5 separate regions of the Homo sapiens genome follow, and all the other regions are linked to region 1. The links come from fine-mapping of genetic effects on gene expression. A gene starts in region 1. Each other region holds a variant in brackets. All regions are shown on one strand. Distances are between the middles of the regions.

Region 1 (6,216 bases):
TGACTTTTTTATTTTTTATTTTTTATTTTTTGAGACAGAGTCTCGTTCTGTCGCCCAGGCTGGAGTACAGTGGCACGATCTCGGCTCACTGCAAGCTCCGCCTCCCGGGTTTATGCCATTCTCCTGCCTCAGCCTCCCCAGTAACTGGGACTACAGGTGCCCGCCACCACACCCGGCTAATTTTTTGTATTTTTAGTAGAGACGGGGTTTCACCGTGTTAGCCAGGATGGTCTCGATCTCCTGACCTCGTGATCCGCCCGCCTCGGCCTCCCAAAGTGCTGGGATTACAGAAGTGAGCCACCGCACCCAGCCCCAGAGTGACTTTTAAGTTGAACCATCCTCCTAGCTGAATTTTGGCTTTGACAAAATTGCTTTGCTTATAATCACTCTTTTCGTTCTTTTGTGAGACTTGACATTTGGAAATAGCCCGTTAGAGCCTTGAATCAAAGTATTCTATTTCTTTCTCCTGGTTACCAGGCCTGAGATCTCCCAAAGGAATTTCCAAAGTGCAAGGCTTTGGAGCCCACCTGAAATTGGGCTCAAGTGAGACAGAGGCCCAGAGGATGCTGACTTTGTGCATCAAAGTATGATGACAAGAACATTGCCTTTGGAGAAGAATGGCTCCGGAGCCTTGAGCTTTTTCTCTGCAAAACTGATGATCATATTTCTTTTACATAGATTATAAAGATTTAAAGAGACAATGTATGGAGGATGCCTAACAGCACACACAATTAATTATTAATATAAGTGGTGAGCACTGGAGAAGGCAGCAGAGGGGGAATATCTGCTATTGCTACTTTCCATTCTCTCACCGTTGAAGTTTTCCAGTGTGTGAGGTGAGGATGGGAGTGGTGGAGCTATCCAGATTTCAGTCCCGCCCTGACTGGGCTGGCCTGACCAAGGACACATCTTTGATTTCACCATGGAAAAGTAACCACGTCTGGGGTGGAGGGCAGGCAGTGCTAGCCACTGGTTGGCAGCCCTAGAATGTCCATGGATAATACTGACTAAATATAAGATTCCATTACCACTCCAAAGTCACCGCATTAGCAATCCACAGTGCCTCGTCCTCCACCCATGGCTGCTCTGCCCTTTAACTATTCATGGGGCAGCAGACAGTATGCCAAAGACTTACAGGAACTAAAGGACTCAAGCTGTATCTTATAATGGATTGAAAGAGTCCATTTTTGCTGTACTACAATTTTATCTGCTACTATTACTGCTAGTATTGCTATTAGCACCACCACTCCTCCAACTGCTGCTACTACTACTCTATTAATCCTTTAAGTCTGTAAAGTACTTTACAATTTACAAAGTGCCTCCGTAGCCTGGGTTTTACCCGATCAAAGATGAGACTGGGCATGGCATTCTGGGAAGACAGAGGTAGGCTGGTACTAGAAACCTCAGAGGGAACAGAGAGATCTGCATTTAAGAACCGAGCAGAATTGCCAGTATTTATTTTTACTCCCCCACCACTGCCTCGGCTTCAGACACATTCACCATTCCCTGCCACACCCAGTCACTCTTCCACCCCTACCCTGCTCTAACTGTCCATAGACAGTTTAGGCAACCTCACATGTCAGGAACTAGGAGGAACTGCCCTTTGTTTGGTCGGAGAAGGTTGACCATGCCAGAATCTCACCAAATGGGGCAAGAGAAGAGGAGAGAATGCTTTTTAAGTTGCCTTTGCCAACCTCTCCCACCTTCTCCCAGGAAGGCCCTAGCAAGAGCCAGACTCTTCTTTTTTTAAGAGACTTTAAATATTCCTGCGCCTAAATTAAACAATTTTTAAATCCCTGATTTTGGCTCTTATCCCCAAAGGGAATGTTGGAATGTACACCTTCTTTGCCCAAGAGTAGGGCCCCCTTTTCCTTCACCCCTAGCAGCCAGCTGGCGTGAGGACTGATGCTACACATAGTGAGAAACGGGCAGGGAGGAGAGGGAGAATGCAGCATAGTTCAAGCCCAACCATGAACCAAGCTTCTTTTGAGATAGAGATCTTCACCTGGCAACCGGGAGCCCCAGCAGAGCTCAGAGAGAAGAAAGTGGCATTCTGGAATCCATTTTGCTCAAGATGCTGAAGGCATGGTGTCAAACTCCCCTTTGCTACTGGGGCCAAAAAACTTGGGGAAGATCTTACCTACAGGGATGCGGTTAGTTGGGGAAAAGGCGAGGACCAATCCTGGTGCTCATGCTACCTAAGGAGAGCAGACAGGTGCGTGGCCTCCCTTGGGACCCACCCGCAGGAAAAAGCTGGGCTAGCGGTGGCTGCGGGGGCCCACCCCGGGCGCTGCTTCCGCATTTTGGACCCAGGTCCACTGGTGAGCAGTAGCAGCAGCAGCCATAGCCAGGCCAGCTGGGTCCCCTTCCAGTCATTTCTAGGTGAGATTTACGATGTATGCTAGCGAAGGGACAAGAGATGATTATGGCCTTTGAAAGGCATAATCCTGAAAGTCACACTTTTTCCAAAGCGCCTCCCTCCCGGGTTCTCCCCAGAGCAACACAGTCACAGCAGGAGAATCTGCACCGCGGGAGCGCCGCAGTGGTCCGCGGAGGGACCGGGCCGAAGAACGGGGACCGCGGCGCGGGGGGCGCGGCGCGGCTCACCTGCCAGGCTGTTGTAACAGTCGATCTCGATGGCTTCCACCGTCTTGCTCTGCTCCTCCGAGAGGCGGCCGGGCTTCAGGGCCCCAGCCGGGGAGGCCGGGCGCGAGTCCCGCTCCCGTTCCCCGGGGGGCGGCAGCAGCCCCTTCAGCTCCAGCAACGCCCGGTGGTATTTGCCTATGGCTTCACGGAATTTCTTGTCCTTGTAGCACTGCGCCCCTTGGCTTTTGAACTCGTGCGCTCGTCGGATGAGCTCGGCCGGCTCGGCCGCCGCCCCGACCTGGCCCCTCGCTGGGGCTCCTCCGCCGCCGCCCGGGACGCACAGCGGCGGCGGTGGCCGCTGCCCCTCTCCGGCCGCGGGCGGGCTCGGGTTCCCCTTGGCCCCGGCCGCCGAGCCCTTTCTCTCCATTCGGCCGCCGCCCCGGCGCCTGGTGCGCGCCGCGATCTGCCCGCCGCCGCCGCCGCCGCCGCGCCTTCCCGGGTTTAAAAGCCGCGGGCGCCGGCCCCGCGCCTCGCAGGCTTCGTGGCGGCCGTGACACCCCGCGGCGGTCTGGCGCCCCGCACTCCCATTCTCCCCGCTGCTGCCAGAGGCTGCTCCAGCCGCCGCCGCCGCCGCCTCGGACGCCGGCCCCTCCCCCGCCTCCCGGCTCCGCGCCGCCCGCTCCCGCCCTCCTCCCTCCGCAACCTGCGGGTGGCGGGGGCCGGTGCTCGCGGGCCCGGGACTAGCGCTGCGGGGGGACCGTGGCCCCGAGTGGGGTGGCGGGGATGGTCGCTGACCCGGAAGAAGCTTGGCTTGCCCGAAGGAGGGGAGGATTAATGACAAAGACGGCCCCGCTCTTTCCCATTCAATCCCGCTCTGCGAGGCGCGCCTAGTCTGAAAGGAGGTGGGGGGAGGGGGGTAGGTGTAGGGGAAGGGGAGTGTGTGTGTGTGCGTGTGTGTGTGTGTGTGTGCGTGCGTGTAGGGATGGGGGGCGGCGGCGACGAAATGCGTGCAGAAATAGATTTCTTAACTACAAGAAAAGGTGCGGCAGGGAACAAGGGGCGCAGGCGCAAGCCGTAGCTGCTAGTTCTTTGCAGTAAGGTGTTAGTATTTTTTAAGGGGGCAGGGCCTCCTTTTTGTGGATCCAGGTTGTCGCTGAGGTGTGTCTCGGTGTGTGTGGTCGCCGGGGCGTCCAGAACGCGACGGGCGGTACAGCGTGTGGGGCGCCGTATTCTGGGAGCCTGTGTATGCGTGTGCTGTGTGCGCGCAGCTGTGCAGGATGAATCACAGACATCAGAGATGGAGAACACCTGTTACTGTGGGTCATCGGCTTGGCGTGCGTCCGGTCTAGTTTCCATTTACAGGACAGTTCTGTGCCCTTCCTCAGGAGGTCCCATTCCTTCCTTCTTTTGGTCGGTTCTGAGTGTCAGCTGTCTACTGGGGATCTGCTAAGGCTAAGAGGCAAAGATAGGCAAGTCACTCCCCTGACCTCAAGAAACTCCCAGTCTACAGGCGAAGATACACCACCCACCGGTAGAGTCGCTGGACCAGGTACAGATGGTGCCTGTCATTGGGGAGGAACGAAAAGTGCTGTGCAGCCCTGAGGGGGGGAGGGAGAGGTAGCTTTTTGAGTAGTGGTAGATCAGGAGGCTTTATGGAGGAAATAGCATTTGAGGACCTTGAAGGCTGGGTAGGATTTGGCATGAAGAAGTAGAAGGAAGTGGCATAGCCGGAGTGAGGAAATCCAGCGGAAGTCCTGATGTTTGAAATCTCAGGTGTGTTTAGGGCATAGTGGTTTGATTTTATAGCCTAATGAGAAGTAGTGGGAAATGACGGGGTTGGATTATGGGGGCTTTTGGATGAAGAGTTTGGATTTGATTTTGGAGTCAATGGAGAAGCCTGACATATTTTTTAGTGCCCTCCCTTCCTTAATGTTAAGAAAAAGAAAGATTCTAGAGCACCGGTTGTCAGAGTGCTGGCCCCAGACCTGCAGTGTCAGCATCACCTGGGAAACAGTTAGAAATGCAAATCCTAGGATCCTACTCCAGACTTAAGAAATCAGAAACTCTGAGGGTGGGTCTCAGTTAACCAGTATATTGGTTCAGATATGCTGCTTTAAAACCTTCCTACTCAAAATGTAGACCTTGGGCCAATATCATCAGCATCACAGGAGAACCTATCAGAAATGCAGAATCTGAAAATCCCACACCTACTAACCCAGAAGCTGCATTTTAACGAGCATACTGGGTGATTTGTTTACCTATTAAAGTGTGAGAAACACTGCTGTAGAGACTTTGGAAAATACAGTAAAGTATAAAGAACCCCCCAGTCTACACCCAGTTGTATTCTTTGTTAATATTTTGATGTAATTCCTACCAGTTGTTTCCTAGGCATCTATATTTGTAAAAAGTGCTCTTTTAGCCAACATAAGTGGTATGGAACAATATACACAATTCATTTACTGTTTGTTGTTGTTGTTGTTGTTTTCTTTTCTTTTTTATTTTTGAGTCAGGGTCTTTCTCTGTCACCCAGGCTGCAGTGCAGTGGCATGATAATTGCTCACTGCAGCCTCAAACTCCTGGGCTCAAGGGATCCTCTCACCTCTTACTTTAGCCTCCTGAGAAGTTGCAACTATAGGTGCACACCACTACCCCTGGTTAATTATTTTTTTTGTAGAGACAGGGTCTTGCAATGTTCCCCAGGCTTGCTTCCTGTGCTTTTTACTTTACATTATATGTAATTAAATATTCTTTTAAAGCCTAATTTTTAATATTCTGTACAATATTCCATTGTAAGTGGCCGGGTGCAGTGGCTCACGCCTGTAATCTCAGCACTTTGGGAGGCGGAGGTGGGTGGATTACCTGAGACTAGAAGTTCAAGACCAGCCTGGCTAACATGGTGAAACCCCATCTGTACTAAAAATACAAAAACCAGCTGGGCATGGTGGTGGCTGCCTGTAATCCCAGCTACTTGGGAGGCTGAGCAGGAGAAACGCTTGAACCCGGGAGGCAGAGGTTGCAGTGAGCCAAGAGCGTGCCATTGCACTCTAGCATGGGCCGCAGCGGGAGACTCTATCTCAAAAAAAAAAAAAAAAAAAAAAATTCCACTGTAAGTGTACCATAGTGTACTTAAGCATTCTTCTATAGTCAGAAAGATTTTGCTATTATAAATAACACTGAGATAAAAATAATAGATATCACTTACATATAGTATTTACATTGTGCCAGGCATTGGGTTAAGCACTTAACATATAATAATCCACTGAATCTTCATAATAACTTAGTGAAATCAGTGCTATTGTTATCCTCATTTTAGACACCAAGTCACAGAGACTTGCCTGAGATTACACTGCTAATGAGTAGTGGAGCTGGGACTTAAACCCAAGAAATTTGGCTCCAGAATCTATGCTCTTAACTATCTTTATACTTAAATTTTTTTCCTAATTTATTTTTTCTTACAAAACATTATTTCAAGTTTTAATAAAGTCTAGAAACACATTGTCAACTTGCTTCTCAGAAAGATTGTACTAACTTGTGCTGCCACCAGCAATATGCTAGTTTCACCACCTCCTTGCCAACGTCAAGGGTGAGCTCTTAAGAAATATTTTCTAATTTGATAAATTAAAAATGTAT
Region 2 (6,216 bases), 430 kb after region 1:
ACTTTGGGCTGCTATAACAAAACTACCATAGGCTGGGTGGCTTAACAACAGATACTTCTTCCTCACAATTCTGAAGGTTGGGAAGTCTAAGATCAAGGTGCTGGCCTATTCAGGTTCTGGTGAGGGCCGTCTTCCTGGTTTTCTGTGGAATGCCTTCTTGCTGTATCCTCAAATGGGGAGAAGAGAGAGAAATTGCTCAGCCTCTTCATCCCCTTACAAGGGCACTAATGCCATCATGGAGGCTCTGCCTGCATGTTTTCCTTTAAACCTCATCACCCCCTAAAGGCCATACCTCCAAATACCATCACATTGCAGATTAAGGCTTCAACATATGAATTTGGGGGCCACATAGTACATAGTAGCTTCCCTAAAATTCAATCTAAATTGCCACCAAAACATATCCCACCGCAGTCACTCTCTAATACCCAGCTTGAGTTTTCTTCATATCACTGATTTTTATCTGAAGTTTTATAAAAATATACCCTACTTTACTTGTTTATTATCCCTCTCCTCCATTATACTAGAAGCATGATGCAGTGGGAATTTTCTCTTATTTACTTATGTATCTGGGCAACTAGAACACTGCCATATACAGACATACTTTGTTTTATCACACTTCATTTTATCACGTTTTGTAGGTTTATGTTTTTTACAAATTAAAGCTTTCTGGCAACCATGCATTAAGCAAGTCTATTGGCATCATTTTTTTTTTGACACAGGGTCTCACTCGGTCACCCAGTTCTGGAGCACAGTGACACTATCATAGCTCACTGCAGCCTCAACCTCCTGGGCTTAAGTGATCCTCCCACCTCAGCCTCCTGAGCAGCTGAGACTACAGTTGTGCACCACCACACCTGGCTAACTTTTTTATTTTTATTTTTTGTAGAGACAAGTTCTCACTGTGTTGCCTAAGCTAGTCTCAAGCTCCAGGGCTCAAGCAATCCTCCTGCCTCAGCCTCCCAAAATGCTGGGATTATAGGCATGAGCCACTGTGCATGGCCGTTGCATCATTTTTTCAGCAGCCTGTGCTCATGTTTGTGTCTTTGTGTCACATTTTGGTAATGCTTGCAATATTCCAAACTTTTTCATTATTATTTTATCTGTTATAGTGATTTGTGATCAGTGATCTTTGATGTTACTATTGTAATTATTTTGGGGTGCCACAAATTGCATATATGTAAGATGGCAAACCCAATTGATAAATTTTTGTATGTGTTCTGACTGCTCCACTGAGCAGCCATTTTCCCATCTCTGTCCCTCTCTTTGGGCATCCCTATTTCCTGACACACAACAATATTGAAATTAGGCCATATAGTAACTCTACAATGGCCTAAGTGTTCAAGTGAAATGATGAGCTGCACATCTCTCACTTTAAGTTAAAAGCTAGAAATGATTAAGCCAAGTGAGGAAGGCATGTTAAAACCTGAGATTCTAGGCCTCTTGTTTCAAAGAGTTAGCAAGTTGCAAATGCAAAGGAAAAGTTCTTAAAGGAAATTAAAATTGCTACTCCAGTGAACACAATAAAACATCATTATGGCTGATATGGAAAGGTTTTAGTGGTCCAGATAGAAGATCAAACCAACCACAAAATTTATTTAAGCCAAAGCCTGTTACAGAGCAAAGCCCTAATTCTCTTTAATTCTGGGAAGCCTGAGAGAGATGAGGGAGCTGCAGAGAAAAGTTGAAAGCTAACAGAGGTTGGTTCATGAGGCTTAAGGGAAGAAACCATCTTCCTAACAAAATGTATAAGGTGAAGCAGCAAGTGCTGATGGAGAAGCTGCAGCAAGTTACCCAGAAGATCTAGCTAAAATTATTGATGAAGGTAGCTACACTAAACAACAGATTTTCAATGTAGATGAAATAGCCTTACCACCTAGGACTTTCACAGCTAGAGAGGAGAAGTCAATGCCTGGCTTCAAAGCTTCAAAAGATAGGCTGACTGTCTTGTTAGGGGCTAATGCAGCTGGTGACTTAAGTTGAAGCCAATGCTCATTTACCATTCAAAAAATCTTAGTGCCCTTAAGAATCATGCTAAATCTGCTCTGCCAGTGAAAGCCTGGATGACAGCACATCTGTTTATATTGTAGTTTACTGAAGTTTTTTTTTTTTTTAGATGGAGTTTCGCTCTTGTTGCCCAGGCTGGAGTGCAGTAGTATGATCTGGGCTCACCGCAGCTCCACCTTCCTGGGTTCAAGCGATTCTCCTGCCTCAGCCTCCGGAGTATCTGGGATTACAGGCTTGTGCCATCATGCCTGGCTAATTTTGTATTTTTAGTACAGACGGGGTTTCTCCATGTTGATCATGCTGGTCTTGAACTCCCAACCTCAGGTGATCTGCCTGCCTCGGCATCCCAAAGTGCTGGGATTACAGGTGTGAGCCACCACACCTGGCCAGTTTACTGAAGATTTTAAGCCCACTATTGAGACCTACTGCTCAGGAAAAAAGATTTCTTTCAAAATATTACTACTCATTGACAATGCACCTTATCATCCAAGAGCTCCGATGGAGATGTACAGGGAGATTAATGCTGTTTTCATGCTTGTGAGTGCAACTTCCATTTTCGGCCCATAAATCAAGGAGTAATTTCAAATTTCAAGTTTTATTCTTTGAGAAATAAATTTCATAAAGCTATAGTTGCCACAGATAGTGATTCCTCTGACAGATCTGGGCAACATCAGTTGAAAGCCTTCTGGAAAGGATTCACCATTCTAGATGCCATTAAGAACATTCATGATTTATGGGAAGAGGTCAAAATATCAATATTAACAGGAGTTTGGAAGAAGTTGAGTCTAACCCTCATGGATGATTTTGAGGAGTTCAAGACTTCAGTGGAGAAAGTAACTGCACATATGGTGGAAATAGCAAGAGAACTAGAATTCGAAATGAAGCCTGAAGATGTGACTGAATTGTTGTAACCTCATGATCAAACTTGAATGGATGAGAAGTTGCTTTTTATGGAGGAGCAAAGAAAGTGGTTCTTGAGATGGAATCAACTCCTGGTATAGATGCTATCAACACTGTTGAGATGACAACAAAGGATTTAGAATAGTACATTAACTTAGTTGGTAAAGCAGTGACACAGTTTGAGAGGATTGAATTCAATTTTGAAAAAAGTTTTCCTGTCATTAAAATATCTCACTTTCTCTCTTCTCTAGGTATATACATA[T/C]ACACACACACACACACACACACACACACACACACACATGTCCAAACCTCATGCATATATATACATATATATGTATACACACATATATATAATATATCCACATATATTATATATAATACACATATATAATATATACATATATAATACATATAATATAAATTCAATACATTTTTGTTTTGCAAAGCAAATGCTATCAAACAGCATTGTATACTACAGAGAAATCTTTCATGAGGCGAGTCAATTGATGTGGCAAACTTTATTGTTGTCTTATTTTCTGAAATTGCCTCTACTACCCCAGCCTTCAGCAGCCACCCCTGTGATCAGTCAGCAGCCATAAACATTGAGTCAAGACCCTCCACCAGTGAAAAAGATTACAACTTGCTGAAGGCTCAGGTGATTGTTAACATTTTTTAGCAATGAAGTATTTTTAATTAAGATATGTACTTTTAAAAAGACATAATGGTATTTTGCACTTAATAGACTACAGTACAGTGCACACATACCTTTTACATGCACTGGGAAACAAAAAAAATTTGTGCAACTCTCTTTGTTCTGATCATTGTTGTGATCTTGAATTAAACCTGTAATGTCTCTGAGGTTGCCTGCATAATTGGCTTTCAAAAAGAAAATTCTGTAATCAATGAATGAATGAATAAATCATCCCCCACCCCACCTCACTTATGAAGGGGATTTTGTAGCAGCTTTACCACCTCTCTAAGTCTGGTGTTGGAGATGCACTTACCTTTCATCTCCCTCTCTCATCACCATGATGTGTCATCACTACTGAACAACATATCCCTGTCCTTAACCTCACTTTCTTTTGTTTTTGTCTAGTTCATTTCTTTCATCTTCTCCTCTGGGGAATCCCTCTAGAGCCCCAGCCTTTTTCTGAGTGTTTCCTTTGTGTTCTTTTTCATGACACAAACATATTCTTTCTGATCTGGACCTAGCCTCTGAACCTCAGAGACCATTACTAGTGTCCAAGGGCAGTGATGGGAGAAGACCTCAATGGCATCCTTGCAGCTGCAGAAACTTCTGTGGAGTTTTATGCATCCCAGGCACTTAACATGGCACTATGACAATATTTTATTCTCTTGCAGTTCTGCATTGAAACCTCTTACCAATGGGAATGCTTTTTTTTTTTTTTTTTTTTGAGCAAATAAAGACTACCAAAGACTGCAAGACTCCTCTGCAGAAAGGAGTGTACAATGGAAGAAACAATCCTGAGCTGGAAGTCAGAGCCAGGGGTTCTGATCCCAACACTCCACTAACCATGTACTCTTAAGTAAATTGCTTAATAGTTTATGAGCCTTTGTTTCCTTATCTGTCAAATGAAAGAATGTCTACCTTTGAGGATTATTATTAGTTTCTAAGGAGATGATATCTATGAACATAATTTAAAATTGTAAAATGCTACGTAAATGTCAAATAATTGTTATATATTTTCTAAGTCAAATCATACAAGATCAGGAAGCAGTTTACCTCCATTTTAGACCAATGGAGAGATTTGTCATTCTATTCTTGGTGATTACGTTTCCTATTTATCCAGGTTTCTGTCTCAGTTTGGCTATCCTACCCTCTCCCCACCCTCTCAGTGCACCATGACCATGAGGACATTCAAAGGGATGGAAGATCTTTGCTCATCTTCTGTGGAAGAGAGCATTTCTCTTGAAGAGGAGCCCTGAATTTTATGCCTTTGAAGCCCCTCTTCCTGCTGTGTTCTTCTAACCCAAGTGTGCCTCCCTAAATGAAATGTCTATGGGATACTTCAGAAAGGTAGAAAGGGCTGCCCCTGTAGCCTGTTTTTGCCAACAGTGGATAGACAATGATTGTCATGGAATAAGAAGAATGCCCTGCTTGCAGTGTTACAGCATCCTCTTTGCCTTCTTTCCCTAGATTCTGACATACGTATTCTTTTCTAGTCATAGGTTAAACTTGACATTTAGTGACCTTCTTAAAAACATATAGGCATCCTCATCTAACATCCAGCAACACATCCTTTTACTTTTTATATAATTATGACACATGTTTAGAAAGATTTTGTTGGAAGACTGTGAGCCACTCCAGAGAAATTATTTCCATGGTAGAACAGATAGGCCTTGTTTACTGATTGGATAAAGGATGAGGGAGAAGGAGGAGTCCGGCATGACATCCAGGTGTCTGGCTTGAGGAACTAGAAAGATGGCAGCACTGACTTGGGAAATATGAGAGGAAACATGTTTGGAGGGCATGGAGCACTGATGAACCTGGGGAGCTGGCATGATATTTGAAGGAGAAATCTCAGAGGCAGCTGGAGATATGCATGGGAAGCTCAGGAGGGAAGGCTGACTGGAGACACAGATTTGAGACCTTTCAGCATCTAGGTGGTTTTTGAGCCACGGGAACAGGCCAGAACACCCAGGGAGTGTGTAAAGTGAGGAGAAAAGAAGGCCAAGGGCAGAACTCTAGAGAAAATAGGTATAAAGGCCGGGTGCGGCAGCTCACGCCTGTAATCCCAGCACTTTGGGAGGCCGAGACGGGCAGATCACGAGGTCAGGAGATCGAGACCATCCTGGCTAACACAGTGAAACCCTGTCTCTACTAAAAATACAAAAAATTAGCCAGGTGTGGTGGCGGGTGCCTGTAGTCCCAGCTACTCGGGAGGCTGAGGCAAGAGAATGGCGTGAACCCGGGAGGCAGAGCTTACAGTGAGCCAAGATCACGCCACTGCACTCCAGCCTGGGCAACAGAGCGAGACTACGTCTCAAAAAAAAAAAAAAAGAAAAAAAAAGAAAAAAAAGAAAATAGCTATAAAAAATATAGACCGAAAGAGGGGAGCCCACAAAGATGTCTAAAAGAGTTGGATAGAGAAGAAAAGTAGAGCTAAGAGCATGGGTTATTGAAGGCAAAGAGAGAGTCCTTTCCGTGAATAACGTCATGACCAAGTCAGATGAGGAATAAAAAGTAGCTATAACCATGTAGTTTAAAGTAGCTTAGTCCCTTTGATGAACTTAGTCAATTGGTTGAAGCAGGTGCCAAACTTCCAGTTAAGGGTTCAGGGGAAATCGAGC
Region 3 (6,216 bases), 22 kb before region 1:
CTATTACTGTTTCAATTTTATAGGTGAGGAAGCTGAGGCCCAGAGAGCTGAAGAAATTTCCCAAGTCCACACAACGTGAAAGAGACAAAGATGGGATTTAAGCTGAAGCTGTCTGGCTCCAGAATCCAAGTCCTTCCTAATCTAGTTGTTGGAGGGATTATATAAAATAATGGCCATAAAGTACTTAATGTGGGCTTGGCACATAGCAAGCATGAAAAAAATGTTAGTTAACATTCTTAGAATTCTTTTTAGTCTTGTACCAGTAACATCTGCCTCTGACTTCCCTCAAGTTCCCTTTCATGTATATTTGTCTCTGCAGTTCCTGAGAGAGGGGGCTTTCTGGTAGGCTAGTGACCAGCTCATACAAGCCACATGTCTGGACATGAGAGACCTAGGTGTCCCAGGCAAGAGGAAGCTATGGCAGGCAGGTCTCATGGTGGAGAGCTTCCCCATCCCACAAACAGCCATCTTTGAGTAAACCATGTCCCTTTGAGCTTTCCCTTACCAGCCCTGAGCCACAGGGAGCCACAGGGCTGGGACTAGAGTGATGACACGCCTGGAGGATGACTAAATGGCCTTGAAGAATGATTGAAATTTCGTGCCCTAGGCACCTCCCTCTAATCCCAACCCTGCTGAGCCACCTCGCCTCCATTTAACCACTCAAATATCTAGTAGGCATTGACCAACGGCAAAGTATGTTGCATACTTCGGAGGGAGTACAAAAAAAGAGACAGGAAAAAGGCACCTGTCTGCTTCTTCAAAGCAAATAAAAACAGAGACTTAGGAGGCAAAACTGGTGCTTCTGTTCACAACCCGGCTGGGTGGCTGGGGGAGAATGCTGATGCTCTGTTCCTTCTTTGTGCCCAGACTTTTCCACACTGACAGAAGACACCTCAGGATAGAGACAAGTCACTGATTTCAATCTTCAGGGGTCTAACGTCAGTCATTCTGACCCCTTAAATAACTTCCCAGGTATCAGAATTGCTGAGATTTTTTAAGAGACCAGATTTTTTTTGAGCATTTAGGACCAAAAAACTCCATTCTTTCACAGAATGAGGAGAAATACACAGACTGTCAAGATGAAGGTATGAGAACCAGGAAGTGAAAGAGAATCAGCCCAGATCTAGAAACTGACCTGTCAGGTTTCACTGGCTGCAGGGCAGAAAGCCAAGTCAACAGAAGCAACAGGCTGCTAACCCCCGAGGGCAGCTCTTGTTCACCCAGGACTACAATCTTCTGGTGCACCAGGGGGTCCTTCTGATAAGCTGATGCTACAAGCCCCCCTCCCCTCTCCTCCCTCTCTCTCCATGGTGGGATCTTAGGCCCTTCTGTCCCCTTCCTCACCTGCATGTTGTCGGAGCCTGTGCTGGTGCTTATACAGCTGTACAGAGAGAGAGAGGGGTTTCTGTAAAAAGGTTCCTGGATGTGAACCTCACTGACTGCTACCTGTGTGTGACTTGGCTCCAGCACCTGCTCCCAGAGCTAAAAGCTGTCCTGTCCACAGCTTCCACGCTCCCTGCCTGAAGTCCTCTCTGACCGGGCCTAGCAGCCCTCTTCCCGTCCAGCCCTCCCTCTTTGAACAGACACTTCTGTTTGCTGACCCTGGCAGTCTAGGAAAAGGACCATTTAACAAATAAAAATAAAAATAAAATAAAATAACAGTTTTTGAATGCATAAAATGGTGGTGACAGGGGCAGGGGAAGCAAAGAGGCCTGGAAATGGGGAAGCCTCCCCCTTCCCACAAAGGGTTAAAGGAACCACAGCAATCAATTTCTGGCACTTATTTGGTAAAAATATTTCTAGTTCCCCTGCAGATCCGGTGGGAACTGGCATACCTGGCTGTGGACCAGGGTTCAGACTTTGGGGGAGGCAAGGGAGGCAGGGCTAGGCTGGTTATAGGGTGTGGAGCCTCAGCTGACACCACAGACAGGGCCCAGAAAGATGGAGAAATAGCTGGGCCAAGAGGTAGAATCTGGATAAGAAGTTGGGGTGCTAGGCCAGGACTCTTTTTTTTTTTTTTTTTAAATGGAGTCACGCTCTATTGCCTAGGCTGGAGTGCAGTGGTGCGATCTCGGCTCACTGCAACCTCTGCCTCCTGGGTTCAAGCAATTCTCCCGTCTCAGCCTCCCAAGTAGCTGGGACTACTACAGATGCCCGCCACCATGCCTAGCTAATTTTTGTAGTTTTAATAGAGACGGGGTTTCACCATATTGGTCAGGCTGGTCTCGAACTCCTGACCTCTGGTGATCTGCCTGCCTCAGCCTCCCAAAGTGCTGGGATTACAGGAGTGAGCCACTACACCCGGCCCAGGCCAGGACTCTTAAGGGAATCCAGGGGTGGAGGGGGTGACAGCCAGGCTGGAGGCTGGCCTCAGCGCTACCTGCAGGTGATTTTTAGGCACCTCTCTGCTTTGGGTGGGTGGCTACTGGTACATCTAGTAAGCCCATGGGATAGGTAAGATGGGATGACAGCAGGCACGTGTGAGGGCTGAGGAAGTTAAGACGACGTGGACTGGCTGCCTCCTGATTGCTCCTTCCCCATCCCTGTAGCCATTAGCCAGGACCTGGGGTTGCAGTGGACCTCAGGATAAGTGGCATCGCCCCACAGTGTGTCCTCCTCATGGTTATTAATCCCTTCTCTGGTGTCAGAGGTGCTAAATACTTCACATACACTATGTCTTTTAATCCTCACATCAACTCCATGAAACAGGTTCTATTTTTATCCTTCTTTTATAGATGATGAAACTGAGTTCCAGAGAAATGAAGTAACTTGCTGAAGGTCACCCAGCTGGAAG[G/A]GGGTAGAATTAGGATATCAGCCCACTTCTGTCAGGCTTCCAAGACTGTGCACTTGACCTCTGGGGTGTCTGTGGGGATGCATTTGAAGCCATCGGAAACCCACACAGCCCCTGGGGAGAAAGAGAGGTCATCTGTGGAAACTCCCTTCTGCTGTGTTCCAAAGCTAACAAGCAAAAATTGATGCCTAACTGCTGGGCACTGGGCGGGGCAGTGGGATCAGCTGATGAGCTGACACCCGCCCCCCCACCCACCTGGGGCTAACAGATGGGCAGGGAGGGCAGAGGTCATGTTATCTCAAATATTCACATGTGGGCTAACTGCTATGAAGGACAAAGGTAGAGAAGGAGCATACCCAGGCAGGAGGGGCCTTACCTTGATCTAAAGTATAATGGGAGGCCTTCTTGGAAGAAGTAGCATTATAGCTGGGATCTAAAGATTGGGTATTTCTCAGCCTCAGCACTATTGACATTTTGGACTAGATGATTTTTTGTTACATGAGGATGTCTTGAGCCTTGCAGGATGCTTAGCAGCTCCCCTAGCCTCTTCTCACTACATGCCACTTGTGACAACCAAAAAATGTCTCTGGAAATGGCCAAGTATTCCCTGGGTGGTGGGGTGGTGGTAAAATCACCCATGTTTGGGAATCACTGATCTGGGTGAAACTGTGACTTTTCAAGGCAGAGCCAAGAAAGAGAGGGAGCGAGAGGGGAATGGCCTATTTCAGAAAGTTTGGGAAGCCATGCATGCCAGGTTGGAGCAGAGAACCAGAGGGAAGGGTAAAAAAGGTGAAGCTGGAAAAGAAAGAAACCATGACACAGAGACCCTTCTGGTCCACGTAGAAGATCTGGGACTTCATTGTGAGGCAAGAGTGGATTTGGATGATGAAGTGATGGTGACTCAGGTGACCAGAGTGGAGGCGGATAAGCAGGAAAAACAGATCAATGTAAGTGGCATCCAGGAGGCAGAGGTGACCAGCAGCAGGGAATTTCTGCAATATTTTCTCTCTGCTGTCCACATTTGCAAGGTAGAGCCGTTCATCTGGGAGATCTTTATTGTCATTTTGGATTTCCTGATTGTCGAGAAGTGTTTCTCCATGTTGTGGTGACCTGGTCTCTGTTTGAATTAAGGATTATCATGTCACAGTCTCTATACTCTGCCATTTGGCATGCATCGGTATTTTAAAGAGCACTGAACTAGGAATCATAAGAGCTGGATTCTAGTCCCATCTTTGCCACTAGCCAACATTATGAAAATTACTTTCCCTTTCTGGGCATCTGCAAAATGAGAGATCTAAATTTCACTAAATGATCTCTACCGTCCTTTCAGATCTAACAGCCTCTAAATACAAATGTTTGCCACTTAATAGAAGGACAAAATTGTTTCACTGGCTCCTCTTCAAAAGGATTTCCTTTCTCCCTATTAATCAAGGTCAGGTATCTTTTGTTGGGGAGGACAATCAGACTGGTAAAGCAGTGATCAAGAGGGCTTCTGTAAGACAACAATTAGATTCCTGCTGTGTGGATTTTTTTTTTTTTTTTTTTTGGCATAGAGATTGGATTATGTTCTGATGTGGGTCTTCCCAAGTCATGGCACTGGGGTGAGACCTTCCCTGAAGGGAGTAAACATCTCCACCATTAGTCATCATGAGCAGAGGAGGCTGTTGAGTTGGAAAGGTAGGTTTTGGACTGACTGGCAAGGGAGCCTGGCCTGGACTCTGTGGATATACTTGGATTCAAAGATGTAGTCACTTGGCAGCAGAAGAGGTACAGGGTGGAAGATGCATGGCAAAGGGCCTGAGCTCTCAGACAACCATATCTAGAGGCTCCATTGAAAGAAATATTATTAACTTTCTGGCCTTTGGGTCTTCTGAAAAGGCTGAATAAATGCAGTGGCCTGGAATCAGCCAAATTGTGGAGAATGAAGACAAGCCTCTATCAAGGCGTGGGAAGAAGTGCTAGAGGAGAAACAGCCTTCCTTGAGCCAAACAGGGTGATAGCAGAGGTGGCCAGTGAACTTACAAGAGAAAGGCAAATCTGGGGGACAAGAATTGAAGCTGCAAATCTCCAACCACCCCTCCCAAGTACAGATTCCTCCACTGCCAGCCTTAGGCGGTTAGGGTGTGATCTTACGAAAAGAATTGGCAGGCCTTCTGAGGCCCACAGAGGGGTCGTGTTTAGCAAATAGAGAATCAGCTACTCAAAGAGCCCCCGCGACACTCATGCACACAGACGGAAAATCCTAAGTGTGATGTTCCCCCCAGCAACCACGCTGAGACCTCAGGCTAAAGCATGTTGAGTTCTCCTCACTCTGGCACCTGTTTTGTTTTTGTGTTTCCTGGTGCATGCAGGGCAAAACGCCACCCACTGGCATGAGATAAAGGGAAACCAGATGAAAGGAAGAACAAGTTCATGCAATCACTGGTTTTCTTCTTATAGCTAACTCACTATAGTTTGCTTTTACCTGCTGAACAGAAGGGAAACATGGGCTAAATGGAAGGAAGACCAGACCCATCTGGGGCCAGCAGCGAGAAGGAAGAACCTACTCTACAAGGCTGCCTCACTGTTTGGGGTTGCACCGTATCCATTTGTACAGGATACGTTACAGTCCTCACCCTCAGTACCTAAGAATGTCACTTTATTTGGAGACAGGGTCTTTGCAGAGATGATCAAGTTAAAATGAAATAGTTAGAATGGGCCCTAATCCAATTTGACTAGTGTCCTTATAAAAAGGAGAAATTTGGACACAGAGACAGATACAGAGTGGAAAGATGATGCAATAAGATCTAGGAAGACGGCTATCTACAAAGCCAGTGAGTGCCTGGGGCTACCAGAAGTTAGGAGAGAGGCTTGGAACAGATTCTTCCTCACAGCCCTCAGAGGGAACCAACCCTGCCGACACCTTGATGTTTCACTTCTAGCCTCTAGAATGACAAGACAATGAATTTCTGTTATTTTAAGTCACCCAGTGTGTGATATTACAGCAGCCTTAGGAAACTAATATACCTTGCTAGTCACTGCTTTGTGAGATGGGCCCAGGAAATGGCCATTGGGTTCCTAGGGGAAAATTTTCCCAAAAGTTTGCCAAATTATTTGATTTGCTTTCAAATTTATTTCAAGAAGCAATGACATAGTAGTAAAGTGGAAGAAGTTTGGGATCTGGACAGAGCTGATATTAAGAATATTGAATGACTGGTATAGATCATAACCAAACCAAATAGGCAAACAGTATTGTACCAGCTCTGGGTGCCCTGGCTGAAGACTAATGCTGGGTCTAGAGATGCAGTCTTGAGCTGGAATCTGAGCTCTGCCACTCACTAGCACAGGCCCGAGGGCGAGTTATATGATCACCCTGGGTCTTATTCTTCCCATGTTAAATAGGAACTTTGGGGGAACGCTTATGATGATGAAATGAGATAATTAAT
Region 4 (6,216 bases), 29 kb before region 1:
TCACCAAACAAGCAGATGACCTGGACGCTTGTTCTATGAGGTTCTGAGAGGCTGTCTTCATTTCGTTCTGGTTTTTGATCTTTCTACATGGGATGGCTACAATCATATCCTGGATTGTCCAGCCCTGCCCCAGCACACTCATGTAAACAAGACCTCTCTCCTGTCTCTGCATAGGGAATAATTACTCGGAGTCCTTCCTGACGCACAAAGACCAAGGGAAGACCCTGGCAGTTTGAACTCATTCTCCAGGTGACCTCTACCCTTCTCTTCATCCTTCAGATCCTAACAAACCATCTGCCAAATCACAAACGTTCTAAGTTGGAGGCTTGGGAATGGGGGTGGGGGTGGGGGTCGGGGCGTTTGAACACATTCCCGTGTGGGGCCATAGGGTAGTTTTGGGTTAGGGTCATGTAAAGCCAGCTAGGAGGAAGAGGAAAGACAGCATAATATAGTAGGGATTGGGGAGAATGTGGCAGCTGAAATAGCTTCTTCCTTTTCCTCTTCTCCAGAGAGTGAGCTCTAGGTGAGTAATGGCAGGCCCCTCAATATTTCTAGCACCTTCCTGTAGCCCCCGTTGAAAGCCTTTGGGGAACTATGTGAATATAACTTACGCTGCTCTCTTCTGGGCCCCTCGGCTGTGATTGGATCCTGCCGTGGTGGGGCATCTGCTTACATAATTAACCCATATTTAACTTTGTGTTTCCTTTCGGTCTTAATTGTGACCCTTTCCCAATGCTGGGGATGGGTGATGAATGCTAGGTGAGTTGTTGAGATACATGCTGGCTCCATCAGTAAGTAGAATGAGCAATACACAGACATAACTATTGGACCTCAGCTGCCTTTTTCTGACCTGTCACTGCTCTGACTACTAGGGATTCTGGCCTCTGGTCTTTTGGGGCCCTTGAGTAAATACATAAGGAGGCCATGTACTATCACTGACATCATGAACACTTTTCAGGTTAATACATATTGTCCTGTTCTCAAATGGTTATAATTGCCCAATATTATACTTACAGAGAGGCAACTAAGTATAGCATAGATACTAGCCAGAGCTCTGGAGTCAGGCAGGCCTGGTTCAAATCCTAGCTATGCCACTAAAGGCCATGCAACCTTGGGATAATTAATTTTTCTGGTTTTCAATATTCTTACCCATCAAATGGGAACAGTATCCCAGAGTAACTGCATGAAAGAAATGAGATTATACATGTAAAGATCTGAAGATAATGCATTTAATAAATCCTAACTATTCACATTATTGCATCTGTATATATTTTAATTTTGTACAACATTGTCTTTTTCACTAGTCACACGAAAAATACATGAAAGTGCTCTGATAATTTTAAAGCATCATATAAATTAACGGTGTCATTGGTAATAATCTCATATGCATTTCTTAACCCTTCCATTTCCTTGAAGACTGAGACGACATCCCATGTCCCACAGCATATTGCACAATGATGGGCAAACAATATGCCCTCAGTAAGTGTTTCTTGTTTGACTGAAGCAACATGGCATAGCATAACGAGCACAGACATCAGGAGACTAGGCTGGGATGAAATTAGTTTAAGGCAGGAGAGCCAGTCTGCAGTCATAATTTATTCATTCAACAAGCATTTGTTGAACACATTCTATGTGCTAGATGTTGAGTTCAGATAATTTCATCAAAAGAAGATTGTACAAGTTCTGACAAAGCCAAGCCCCTGGGCAGTCTCCACAATCCCAGCCCACTCTTAAAAGCACAAAGGCTGTAGCCACCATTGTCTGCCACTGGACAAACGGCCAATTGCTTTGGGGAAAGCCCCATCCTGCCTGGCTGTAAGTAGCTCTGATTGAGGGTTGGAGGAAGGAGTAAAAGTGAGGGAGTGGGCTGCTTCCAACAGAACTGACAGGAACTACTACCTGTTAATTTGTTTTTATTTACACTGAATCAGTCCACAGTTCAATCCCCTAGCCTATACGATGCTCTTTCCCCTGGCCATCATCTTTCCCTCCCTGTCACCTACACAGTCAACCTGTCCCAAACCTTGGCCCACTTCATCCTGCCCTTCTGCGGTCACAGCTGCCTGCTGGGTGGGAGTCCGGGGGAATGGTATGTGTGGTCACCAGAGGGCACTGAGTGGGCTTCAGTGGCATGTGAATCCTGGCAGAGTCTCGGATCCCCGATGGGGAGAGGAGAAAGCACAAGCCAAGACAACGAGTGGGGGAAGGAGGCAGGGGCTAAGTGACGGGTGGGGGGTGGGGGTGGGAACTCCAGTGTACACATTGACAGTCTCTATGTTGGCTTCACCAGCGCTTCTCTGTTTGTCTCGTCCCTGGATTTCTAACAGTTGCCTCGAGATGCTCTGGTTCTGGTCTGTCAGGAAAGTGTGGAAGGATCCAGCCCATGGGCTGTGTGCCTGCTGCCTGTGGGATGGTACACTTGCCAGGCTCCGCCTCTGTCAGAAGCACTGGCCAAAGTCAAAGCCACAACAGCATCCCAGCCCATGAGACTCCTCTCCAGCTGTCCCAGCAGAAGTCAGGCCCCTCTCAGTCGCTGACCTGCTAGAGGAGAGGATGTCTCCATTGTCTGGGCGACCTACCAGATTCCAAATTTGCATCTCTCCTTTTCGTACTGGGAGGAGACAAAGAGCTGGGGTGCAACAGGAGGAAAAATGAGGAGCCAGAAGAAGTGGGGAGAAAGGGACAGAATCCAGGACGGGGCTCTCTGCCAGGGGATGCCTGGAAGTCCCCGGTCAGGCGTGGGCGCAGCTCTGGAGCTGCTTCCTGGTTACATGGCTTCTTTTTCTCTCTGGGAGCATCGGCTGAGTTTCATCTCCGTCAGCTGGATATACCGAATCACGTTGGTGTCTGTGAGGAGAGAAATAAACCTTAGGGAACACCAGGTGAGGGCAACTATCACATTTACAAGGAATTAGCAAAGGCTGTGTCTGCAGACATCCAACAGGCCAGGCTCACTCAACCAAGGTCCCTTCTGCCTATCCATGGTGGCTGAGAGGGCAACTAGATGTCGACCCTCTCCTTCACTGTCTCCCCTTAGCAAATGTGGACAGGTTGGCATGACCCAGGGGATGTGAGAGAGAATGGGTGGGAGAGGAGAGAGAATTTCTCTCCCTCTTTCTATGCAGCAGCGTATCCCAGTGGTTTCCCAGCCGGCGCAGTTAGTTTAGTGAGACCCCAGTTGGAGTTTAACATCAGGCAAGTTGCCAACTTCTCTGAGCCTCCTGTACCATCTGCAAGAAACAACCTCTATTTTTTTTTGTTTGTTTGTTTTTTGAGATGGAGCCTTGTCCTGTTCGCCCAGGCTGGAGTGTAGTGGTGCAATCTTGGTTTGCTGCAAACTCCACCTCTCAAGTTCAAGCAATTCTCCTGCCTCAGTAGCTGGGATTACAGACACATCCCACTGCGCCCAGCTAATTCTTGTATTTTTAGTAGAGACGGGGTTTCATCATATTGGCCAGGCTCGTTTCAAACTCCTGACTTTAGGTGATCTGCCCACCTTGGCCTCCCAAAGTGCTGGGATCAGAGGCGTGAGTGAGCCACCGCGCCCAGCCAACAAGCTCCATTTTTGAATGCCAACCTTGTGCCAGGTTTCTAACCTTCATGATCTCATTTAATCCTCAATACAATCCCGCAAGGTATGTATCCTTCTCCTCACTGTGACAAAATGGAATAGGGACCTAGCGAGATTGAGTC[A/G]GATGCCAAGGAGACACATAGTAAATGGTGTGTCTGGCTGCAAAGCCTGTCTCTCCTGAGGACTGTAATACCTGCCTCATGAAATTGCTCTGAAGCCCAAAATAGGTAAGTCTAAAAGTGCTTAAAACAATGATCAACAAATATTAGTCTAATGTAATTTTTTTAAGCTTGAAGAGTTTAAAATGACTTTGCTTTATTGTCTTATTTTTGTCGTTATAAGCAGGGTCAGATGACCACCTCACCAAAACTGGGGCATTTCTTCCCAGTTCCTGTTATTAGTGAGGATGGCATGGCAGGGAACAACTGCTAAGTTCCACACACACCATAACATAAGAGTGACAGGGCTGCCTGGAATAGTTACTTCTGGAAGTAGAAATGAATACTATATCATGCTAAAAAATGCCAGGCGTATCCTCCAGAACCGTGCTGGCAGATAGCAGTGCTCCAGAAAATTCTATTGAATGAGTCCAATGGTTAGTCTTCAAGCTGCTTACAGTTGGTGGAACACGATTTATGTACGGAAAATAAATCAACAACAAGGTGTTCTTTAAAAAGATAAAAAAAGTATACATTTGGACATTTGTGACTTGATTCTAAAGTTTTTTAAAGACTTTTGAAAGGAAGATTGAGTTTAAAAAAAAAAAAAAAAGGCTGGGTGTGGTGGCTCATGCCTGTAATCCCAGCACTTTAGGAGGCCGAGGCAGAAGGATTGCTTGAGCCCAGGAGTTCAAGACCAGCCCTGGCAACATAGCAAGACTTCATCTATACAAAAAATAAAAAACATTAGCCAGGCATGGTAGTGCATGCCTGTAGTCCAAGCTACTGGGGACGCTGAGGTGGGAGGATCATTTGAGCCCAAGAGGCGGAAGTCGTAGTGAGCTGAGATCACACCACTGCACTCCAGCCTGGGCGACAGAGCGAGACTCTGTCTGAAAAAAGAAAAATTATTAACCATATAAACAACAAAAATAGCAACATCAAGTCAAAGTTGTTTAAATGTTACTTCCTCAGAGAGGCTCTTTCTGATCACTTGGTCTAAAATAGCTCCCCCCTCTTTACTCTTTTTTATTTTTTTTGAGACAGTCTCGCTCTGTCACCCAGGCTGGAGTGCAGTGGCGCAATCTTGGCTCACTGCAACCTCCGCCTCCTGGGTTCAAGTGATTCTTCTGCCTCAGCCTCCTGAGTAGCTGGGACTACAAGTGCGTGCCACCATGCCCAGATAATTTTTTGTATTTTTAGTAGAGACGGGGTTTCACCATGTTAGCCAGGATGGTCTTGATCTCTTGACCTCCTGATCCACCCACCTCGGCCTCCCAAAGTGCTGGGATTACAGGCATGAGCCACCGCGCCCAGCCTTACTCCTTTTTTTTTTTTTTTTTTAGACAAGGTCTTGTTCTGTCGCTCAGGCTGGAGTGCAGTGGTGCCATCTTGGCTCACTGTAGCCTCCGCCTTCCAGGTTCAGGTGATCCTTCTGCCTCAGCCTCCCAAGTAGTTGGGATTACAGGTGTCCACCACCACACCCAGCTAATTTTTGTATTTTTAGTAGAGATGGGGTTTCACCATGTTGCTCAGACTGGTCTTGAACTTCTGAGCTCAAGCGATCCACCTGCCTTGGGTTCCCAAAGTGCTGGAATTACAGGCATGAGCCACCACGCCCAGCGCCCCCATTTACTCTTGATCTCTTTATTCTGCTTTATTTTCTTCACAGCGTTTATTACTACTAAGTATTTCATTTGTTTACTATTTGTTTGCTTGTTTACTGGTTGACTTCTAGCCATCCCTTGGTAGAGAGCCCCTCCCTGGGTTCTGTCCCCTCTCCACACTTTTTTTTCCCACTTACAATAGACAGTGAGCCATTATAATATAAGCTCTTTGAAGGCAACAACTTTCTTTTGTTCACTACTATATACCTAGCAATATTGTACCCCCTCAATAAATATCTGTGGAATGAATGAATGAATGACTGGTGGATATGATCTAAGTGAATGCTATAGATAACACATGTCCTAAGGAATAGCATCTGACTGGAGAAGTCAGAGCATGCTTCCTGAAAGGTGCTGGGCTTAGCATCAAATTTGCCTGTTTGTATTCTGTGTCATCAACCAGATGTGAGCGCCTCATGGGTAGCGGCAGTGTCTTTTCATTGATTCCCTTGGTGCTTAGCACAAATCTTGGCACATAGTATGAATTCAATATATATATATTTGTTGAATAAGTGAAGAGAGCTGGATTCTGAGTTGAAAAAGATGAGGAATTCTATACTCTATTTGAAGAGAAGAGGGGCCTGTGCTCCCTGGAACTCAAACCCTAGGCAAATGCATGGGCTGTGTGCTCCTCTTAGGTCTTATCATATATATCTGATCCCTAATTTTGCCATCTCTGTCCCTGCCTGGCCCTCCTAGCCAAGAAAACTGCTGAAATGAGAAGGTCCCAGGAGCCACCAGAGCAGGGAGGAAGTAAGAAAACAGCTATTTCCGCCTTACCTGTTGGTTGTTGGGTCCTTGCTTCTTTCAGGTAGTAGAG
Region 5 (6,216 bases), 57 kb before region 1:
TGAAGCTAAGAAGACTATTATTGGAAGCCACAGACTGGTCCAGGTGAGAGGCAGGAAGGACCTGGAGGGGTGGATGGCTGAGGTCCATAAAGGGAAGACAAGTTAAGTGCCAGTGGCAAGAACTTGACTGACAGCAGGTAGAGGATGCCAGAGGCAGGGAGAAGTGAAGGCAGACAAGGCAGTGGTGATTTCTCTTCTCCATGTGCATCCCCTCTTCCTCCCCTTCCTCCTCCTCCCCTTCCTCCTCCTCCCCTTCCTCCTCCTCTTCCTCCTCCTCCTCTTCCTCCTCCTCCTCTTCCTCCTCCTTCCTCTTTCTTCTCACCCCCCTCCTCTTCCTCCTTTCCCCTCTTCCTCTTGTTCCTCCTTCTCCTCCTCATCCCCTCCTCCTCCACTTCTTCCTCCTTTTCCCCCCATCCCTCCCTCTTCCCCCTCTTTTCCCTACAGCTCCCTGCCCCATTGGCATCTGCTTCTATCTTCCTTCTCGCTAACCCCTTTGTCTAATGGGCATGCTCTGTTTTCCGCTGACCCCTAGTTCTAGGCCATGGGTCCCAACCCCAGCAAATGCATGGAAAAATCTTGGTTTCCTCAGCTTTGTTCACTGTGACAAGAAAGAGTGAGCTCCCACAGTGACAGCAACAGACTCTGACACATCTTTTCAATCTTACTTCTCTTTCCATTTCCTTTAAAACTTTTGGCCTTAAAAACTTTGACCAGTGTGTAGGATTGTTATAGAGACAGACAAGTGGTCCAGGAAAGAAACTCAGGGAATTTCCGACATGAGGGAAGAGGAAGGAAATCCTTTGTCTCACATTTGTTGTTTCCTTTGGAGTGTTTTCCAAAGGACACTGGCCTGTTGACAAGGCATCCCAAGGGCTTTGGGGCTGGCCCTTCCTTTTCCTTGTCCCTGGTCTATGTCTGTCCTTGTAGCCTGGTGCCTGCTTCAGGGCTGGGAGCTGGGGTTGCCAGATGTGCTCTGAACCCTGCTGGCAGAAGCACTTGTGTTTGGCCTCTGTCTCTGCTTCCCTGCCCTTCTCTTCCCCAGGTCCTCGGTAGCCCTGTTGAAAGGCCAGTGGCTTCTCATGCTTTCAGAAAAATTTAGACAATAAAGAGGCTGCAATGATGAGCTGATTGCTTTCAGGCTGACAGCTAAAGTCTGTGTCGGCACTGAGTCAACCATCAAGAGGGAAGGTGAGCACCTTCCAGCTAATGCTGGGTTCCCAGCTCCTCCCATTGGCTTGTGAGACGTGCTATGTCCATTTTGTCTCTTCTCTCCCTTCAGCCTGTGTGCATTCCTCTCCTCTGGGCCCACTGCTCACCTGCTCTCATTCTGTTCTTTAGTATTCTGTTCTCTCTCTCATCCCACACTATCTTCAAAGAGAGCCAGGCCTTGGAGAACGGAGGGAAGTCCAAGTTCCCCTTTGGCTTCTGACTCCCAGTGTCCCCTTTCTGTGCCCTTTGCTCACCCTCTTTCCAGGATCTGCCTCCTCCATGCTTCTCCACCCATAGCATCACTGCCTATTCCTAGGAAGGATTTGGATACCAGTCATGTGTATCTTCAGCAGCCTCATGGCATGATGTTTTGGAACACACATGCACTTGGGAACTTAGTAGCTTGGGTTGAAATCTGGGCCCTGTTCCTTACATGCAACTTTGAATATGTTAACAAAAGTCTCCATGGGCAAGTTTCCTCAATCTGTAAATTGGGGCTAACAGTATATATCATGTGATTGTGAGGATTAAATGAGTAATGTATGTAAATACTTTGGACAGTGCCTGGCACTTGAGGAGTTTTATAAAAATTAGGTATTACTACCATATGAATACAAATGAATGTGCTGTACCTCAATAAGGAGATCGGTGAGTAGGAGAGGCCCCCTTCCGTGCCATGGCAAGCTCAATCAAGGGCCACCATGGGGTGACCAGGCTGTGGGAATGGCCAGATCCATGCGTGCTGCCATCAGCATGGCCAGGTGAACGTTGGTGATGACCAGAAAAGGCTGAGCCAAATGCTCAAATCAGCACAGTGGGCTTGAGACTTTGGGAGCCACTGTGGAGAAGAAGAGCACAGTTGAGATAGGGAATGGAAGGTAGGTTCTGCACAGGCAGGCGTGATGTCATTCCTCCTGTCACTGGGCTGCAGGGTGAGCATCAAGCCAGCCATGCAGGAGAACAGAAAGTGCACCCTGCTGTAGAGGGGTGTGGGGGTGTGTGCATGGCCAAATAGAAGACGTGTTGCTTCCCTAGGAACCTGCTAGCGGACTGGTAGGAGGGACCGCAGTGTGTGAAGCACTGATTGCCAATAAAAACCATTTCGTTGTCACCTCCCTCCATATCCTGTGCCCTTGTTCTGGTCCTCAATGCAATTCATAGGCTTTTCTTTCCCCTCCCAGGAAAGGTCCCTGGGCAAAGCCTGTGACCACAGCCACACCTGTAGGTGTGTGAATTACCGTCTTCTATGTGTCTTCTTTGCTTTCTCTAAAAGGGAGGGATGGAAAGCTTTTCTTTTTAATTTTTATTTTTTTGACAGGGACTCACTCTGTCTCCTAGACTGGAGTGCAGTGGTGTCATCATAGCTCACTGCAGTCTCTGCCTCCTGGCTCAAACGATCCTCACACCTCAGCCTCCTAAGTAGTTGGCACTGATAGGTACATGACTGCCATGCCCAGCTTTTTTTTTTTTTTTGTAGAGATGAGGTTTCTCCATGTTGCCCAGGCTAGTTCTGACTTTTATGAAAGACACAGTATCATTACCCAGCAGGATGACAGATGTTAGAGATCCAGGACCTCCTCCTGGTGCTCCCTGGCTCAGTGGTGGGGCTATCTTCCCAAGGGAGAAGTGGCAGATGGCACACAGGGTTCCCCCGCTCAAGGCTTTTGGGGCACCGTTCATCCTGGGGCATCACTCACATCTGCAGTCCCAGGAGTTGCACAGGGTGCAGATTTGCCCGGGGACCCCAGCCTCAATTGGGCTCAAAGGGACTCTGCCTCAGGATCCCTTCCTCCCTGTTCTTGGCTGTCTTTTGTGAAGAGCTGTGGGTGGGGGAAGGTGACCGTGGGGACTGAGAGCAATCAAATTGAAATGCAGGGCTAAGAGAAGCCATTGCTTTGGGCAGAAAGAGAAAATTCATGGCAGAGGGAAGAGCAGGTCCCAAGCTTCCCCACCACCCCCCATGTCCCCGCTCTCACCTCAAGCTTCAGAGGGCAGGATCCTGCCTTGGAGATGATGTACCAACACAGCTACCTCCCCACCAGTTCATTAGGAAGACAAATGCCTGAGCCAAATTCCTTAGGATTTGCCAAGAACCAATTCCTTAGGATTCTTTTTCTGGCAACTTCCATAGCATTGCCAAGCTAATGGAGGGATCCCAGGGATATATCTGATGCCTGGAGCAACAGGAAATGCGGGAGCCCACAAGACGATCAGTCAGGTGTGTGCACCTAGCACAGTGGCAATGCCCAGTGTCCTGATACAGACCTTTGTAGTTCCCTTGGGCTCAGGAGGAACCATAATGCCA[A/G]ATGACACAGTCACATGGAAGGGCAGGGCTGCAGCCACAGTGACTCAGCAGGAAAAGAGTTAGTTCCCCAGAAGGATCTAGCTTGAGGAATATCTGAGGCCAGAGTGTAGCGGTTGGTCTGTTTGCTTTTACATTCTGCAACCCATTTATTGATAAAACTGTTGTGTTTTTCAATGTTAAGTAAAATGCTATGCAAAAGTATCCTCAAGCCAAGTCCCCTAGCTCCAGGGGTGATTATCAAAATAATGCCAGAAATTAATGTTTTTATGCAAGGATGTCGAGGAGGTCCTGGAGTCCAGGGGAAGGGGCCTTGGGTGGTTCAGGGTAGTGCCATTTACCAGCCTGGAGGAAAAGCAGTTTAATATTTTCAACAACCTATATTGATACACATGTGTTGGCTGAATGTCAGCCCTGCCTAGCCCTCACCTCAAACTGACCCTCACCTCAAACTGAAGCTTTATTGCATAAGCATTGTGGTACTTACTCTTGCCTGAATATTGAAGAAACCCCATTCCTCATCTCCAAATCCCTCATATGGCTGTTTCTCCAATGTGAGTTTCAGAAGACTCTGAAGTGTGAGAAATCTCTCTGCTTTGACCAGTCTTTTGGGCAAGGCCTCATGTGTCAATAAGGGTGTGTCTCCTTCCTTTCCAGCTCAGTCCCAACTATTTTCTTTCATATAACACGTACTGTCCAGTGGAACTTCTTGCTCTTTCTTTTCACACACACCCTAAGCATTCATGTCTGTAAGCCTTTGCTCCTGCAGTTTCCTCTACCCGGGTGCCTTTTTCTCTTCTCTCCTTGTGTCCAACTCATGGTCATCCTTTAAGGCCTTTGCAAATGCCACCTTTTCCAGGAAAGTCTCCAACTATTCCTCTCTTCATAAATGATCTCTCTCTGTCCTGTGACATCTTAAAACAATTTTTTAAAACTTCAGTATGGCACTTTAGAATTTTGTCATCATCATTACTGACATCATCAACATCATCATTATTTGGCTGGATTCATTGAGAATCTACTATGCGCCATGAAAATATTCTGTGCTCTACAGTCTCATTTGCTTTTCTGTCTTGTAAAAATAATTATGTATGTATGTATGCATGTTTTCTTCCTTTCTAGCATACAGTAATAAAGCAAATGGAATTTGGAATCAGATTTGGGTTTGGACCCGAGTTCCATTATTTGGTTGTAGGACTTTAGGCAAATTACTCAGGCTTCCTAAACTTCAGCTTTCTTGTTGGTAAAACACTGATAATAACACTTACCTCATAAAGGGTAATTGTATTACATCAAATAATAATAATAATTGCCAGCATTTGTTCAGTGCATATTATATGCTGGGCAGTGCTCCAAGTACCAATTCTGTATTATTTAATAATTTAAATCCTCACAGTAACCCTATGAAATAACTAATAGTACCCTTACTGTACGGAGGGAGAATCTAAGGCAAAGAAGCCAGTCAGTGGAAAGCTAGAATAAGAATTTTGACTTTAGAATCCTCACTTTTTTTTTTTTTTTTAACTGAGTCTCACTCTATTGCCCAGGCTGGAGTGCAGTGGCACTACCTCAGCTCACTGCAACCTCTGCCTCCCAGGTTCAAGCAATTCTCCTGCCTCAGCCTCCCGAGTAGCTGGGACTACAGGCACCCGCCACCATGCCTGGCTAATTTTTGTAGAGATGGGGTTTCACCATTTGGCCAGGCTGGTCTCAAACTCCTGACCTCAAGTGATCTGCCCACCTCGGCTTCCCAAAGTGCTGGAATTAGAGGCGTGAGCCACCACGCCTGGCCAGAATCCTCCCTTTTAATCATTACCAACAAATGCCTCTGTAGGGTGGATGATACCTGGCCTGGGCTGGATATTGTCTGGACGGTACGTAGCCCAGTATCTGGCAAGTATTTCAAAATTGGCAGCTGTAATTCTTATTCCCATTCTTACTGCTCAGGGCTGGGGTCTATCCTGTGCATCTCTGTTTCTCCACAGCACCTCATAACACTAAGAGCTTGCATTTGTTTAGCATTTTCCATGTGCCAGGGACTGTGCTAAGCCTCTAGCCCTAGCAAATGAATAAATGAGTGATTGAATAAATGAATGAATGAAAAGATTAGACAAAAGCTCTTGAACAGTGGGCAAAGACTATCTGAAAAGAGGATTCATCCCTTCCAGTTTACTTGCCAGGCAAAAAGATGAAGGGATGGAGGAGAGGCCTCCCAGGGACCTGAATAACTCCCAGTATTCATCAGTATTTTCATTAACGACTTGAAAGATGGAGTGCAGAGTATGCTAATCAAATTGGTGAAGCCTGCGAGGCAGAATAGAAGCTGAGCACTTATGAGGGAAGCTGGAGCTTGCAGACAGTACTTGACAAATTGGAGAAATAAACAGAGTTAATAAACAGAGCTTCAGGAGCTGCAGACTTCAAGTGGCTCCAAGGGATCAGCTGTCACTAATGGATTTGCCCAGAGAGATCTTTGACCCTCTTTTCCTTGGTCTTTGCCTGGCTTGACTGCATCTTTGGAGCAAGCCTGCCTGAGGGGTACACAGTTTCCTTGATGAGGGGACTTATTTGGGCCTGGAAGCCTGATGGGCAAAGTCCCCACTTCAAAAGCTAAGCTGTCCCCACACTTCTTCCTGGCCTGTGACTTGCTCACCTAACCCATCTGCCTGGCTGTGTCTCCATGGAGAGAAGGGGCTGGCTCCACC

Direction of the effects. Positions count from the first base shown, and alleles are read on the strand shown. Sizes are in standard deviations (SD) of each study's normalised expression. Not every link is listed here.
For the expression in neural progenitor cells of the gene that starts at base 3,227 in region 1, T is the low allele of the variant in region 2 and C is the other (large effect, 1.7 SD a copy in Aygun 2021).

What was found.
Region 2: its variant is fine-mapped to the expression of TTC9 in neural progenitor cells (Aygun 2021, PIP 0.91).
Region 3: its variant is fine-mapped to the expression of TTC9 in pancreas (GTEx, PIP above 0.99).
Region 4: its variant is fine-mapped to the expression of TTC9 in lung (TOPMed, PIP 0.98).
Region 5: its variant is fine-mapped to the expression of TTC9 in monocytes (TOPMed, PIP above 0.99). The same link has a PIP of 0.9 or more in aorta and whole blood.

The regions. Positions count from the first base shown.
Region 1 is chr14:70,638,927-70,645,142 of GRCh38, reverse strand. TTC9 (tetratricopeptide repeat domain 9) reads right to left here and starts at 3,227. Exons shown (of 3, transcript NM_015351.2): 1 at 2,608-3,227. The coding sequence starts at 3,013. TTC9-DT (TTC9 divergent transcript) reads left to right here and starts at 3,845. Exons shown (of 3, transcript NR_110071.1): 1 at 3,845-4,135. RefSeq lists silencers at 2,673-2,742, 2,763-2,952, 3,173-3,322 and enhancers at 3,793-4,052, 4,153-4,332.
Region 2 is chr14:70,206,291-70,212,506 of GRCh38, reverse strand. LOC107984686 (a long non-coding RNA gene) reads left to right here. Exons shown (of 3, transcript XR_001750796.1): 3 at 4,267-4,291. It also overlaps the pseudogene LOC646548. Among named protein-coding and RNA genes, the nearest start is that of SLC8A3, 20 kb to the right of the region's middle. The variant T/C (reference allele first, on the strand shown) is at 3,167.
Region 3 is chr14:70,660,535-70,666,750 of GRCh38, reverse strand. The region is part of intron 1 of TTC9 (tetratricopeptide repeat domain 9); the gene reads right to left. Among named protein-coding and RNA genes, the nearest start is that of TTC9, 22 kb to the right of the region's middle. RefSeq lists enhancers at 1-368, 866-1,025. The variant G/A (reference allele first, on the strand shown) is at 2,795.
Region 4 is chr14:70,667,707-70,673,922 of GRCh38, reverse strand. TTC9 (tetratricopeptide repeat domain 9) reads right to left here. Exons shown (of 3, transcript NM_015351.2): 2 at 6,177-6,216; 3 at 1-2,847. The coding sequence ends at 2,768. Among named protein-coding and RNA genes, the nearest start is that of LINC01269, 28 kb to the left of the region's middle. The variant A/G (reference allele first, on the strand shown) is at 3,694.
Region 5 is chr14:70,695,826-70,702,041 of GRCh38, reverse strand. LINC01269 (long intergenic non-protein coding RNA 1269) reads right to left here and starts at 3,344. Exons shown (of 4, transcript NR_125769.1): 1 at 3,186-3,344; 2 at 1,842-2,047. RefSeq lists enhancers at 2,627-3,126, 3,127-3,628, 3,035-4,234. The variant A/G (reference allele first, on the strand shown) is at 3,515.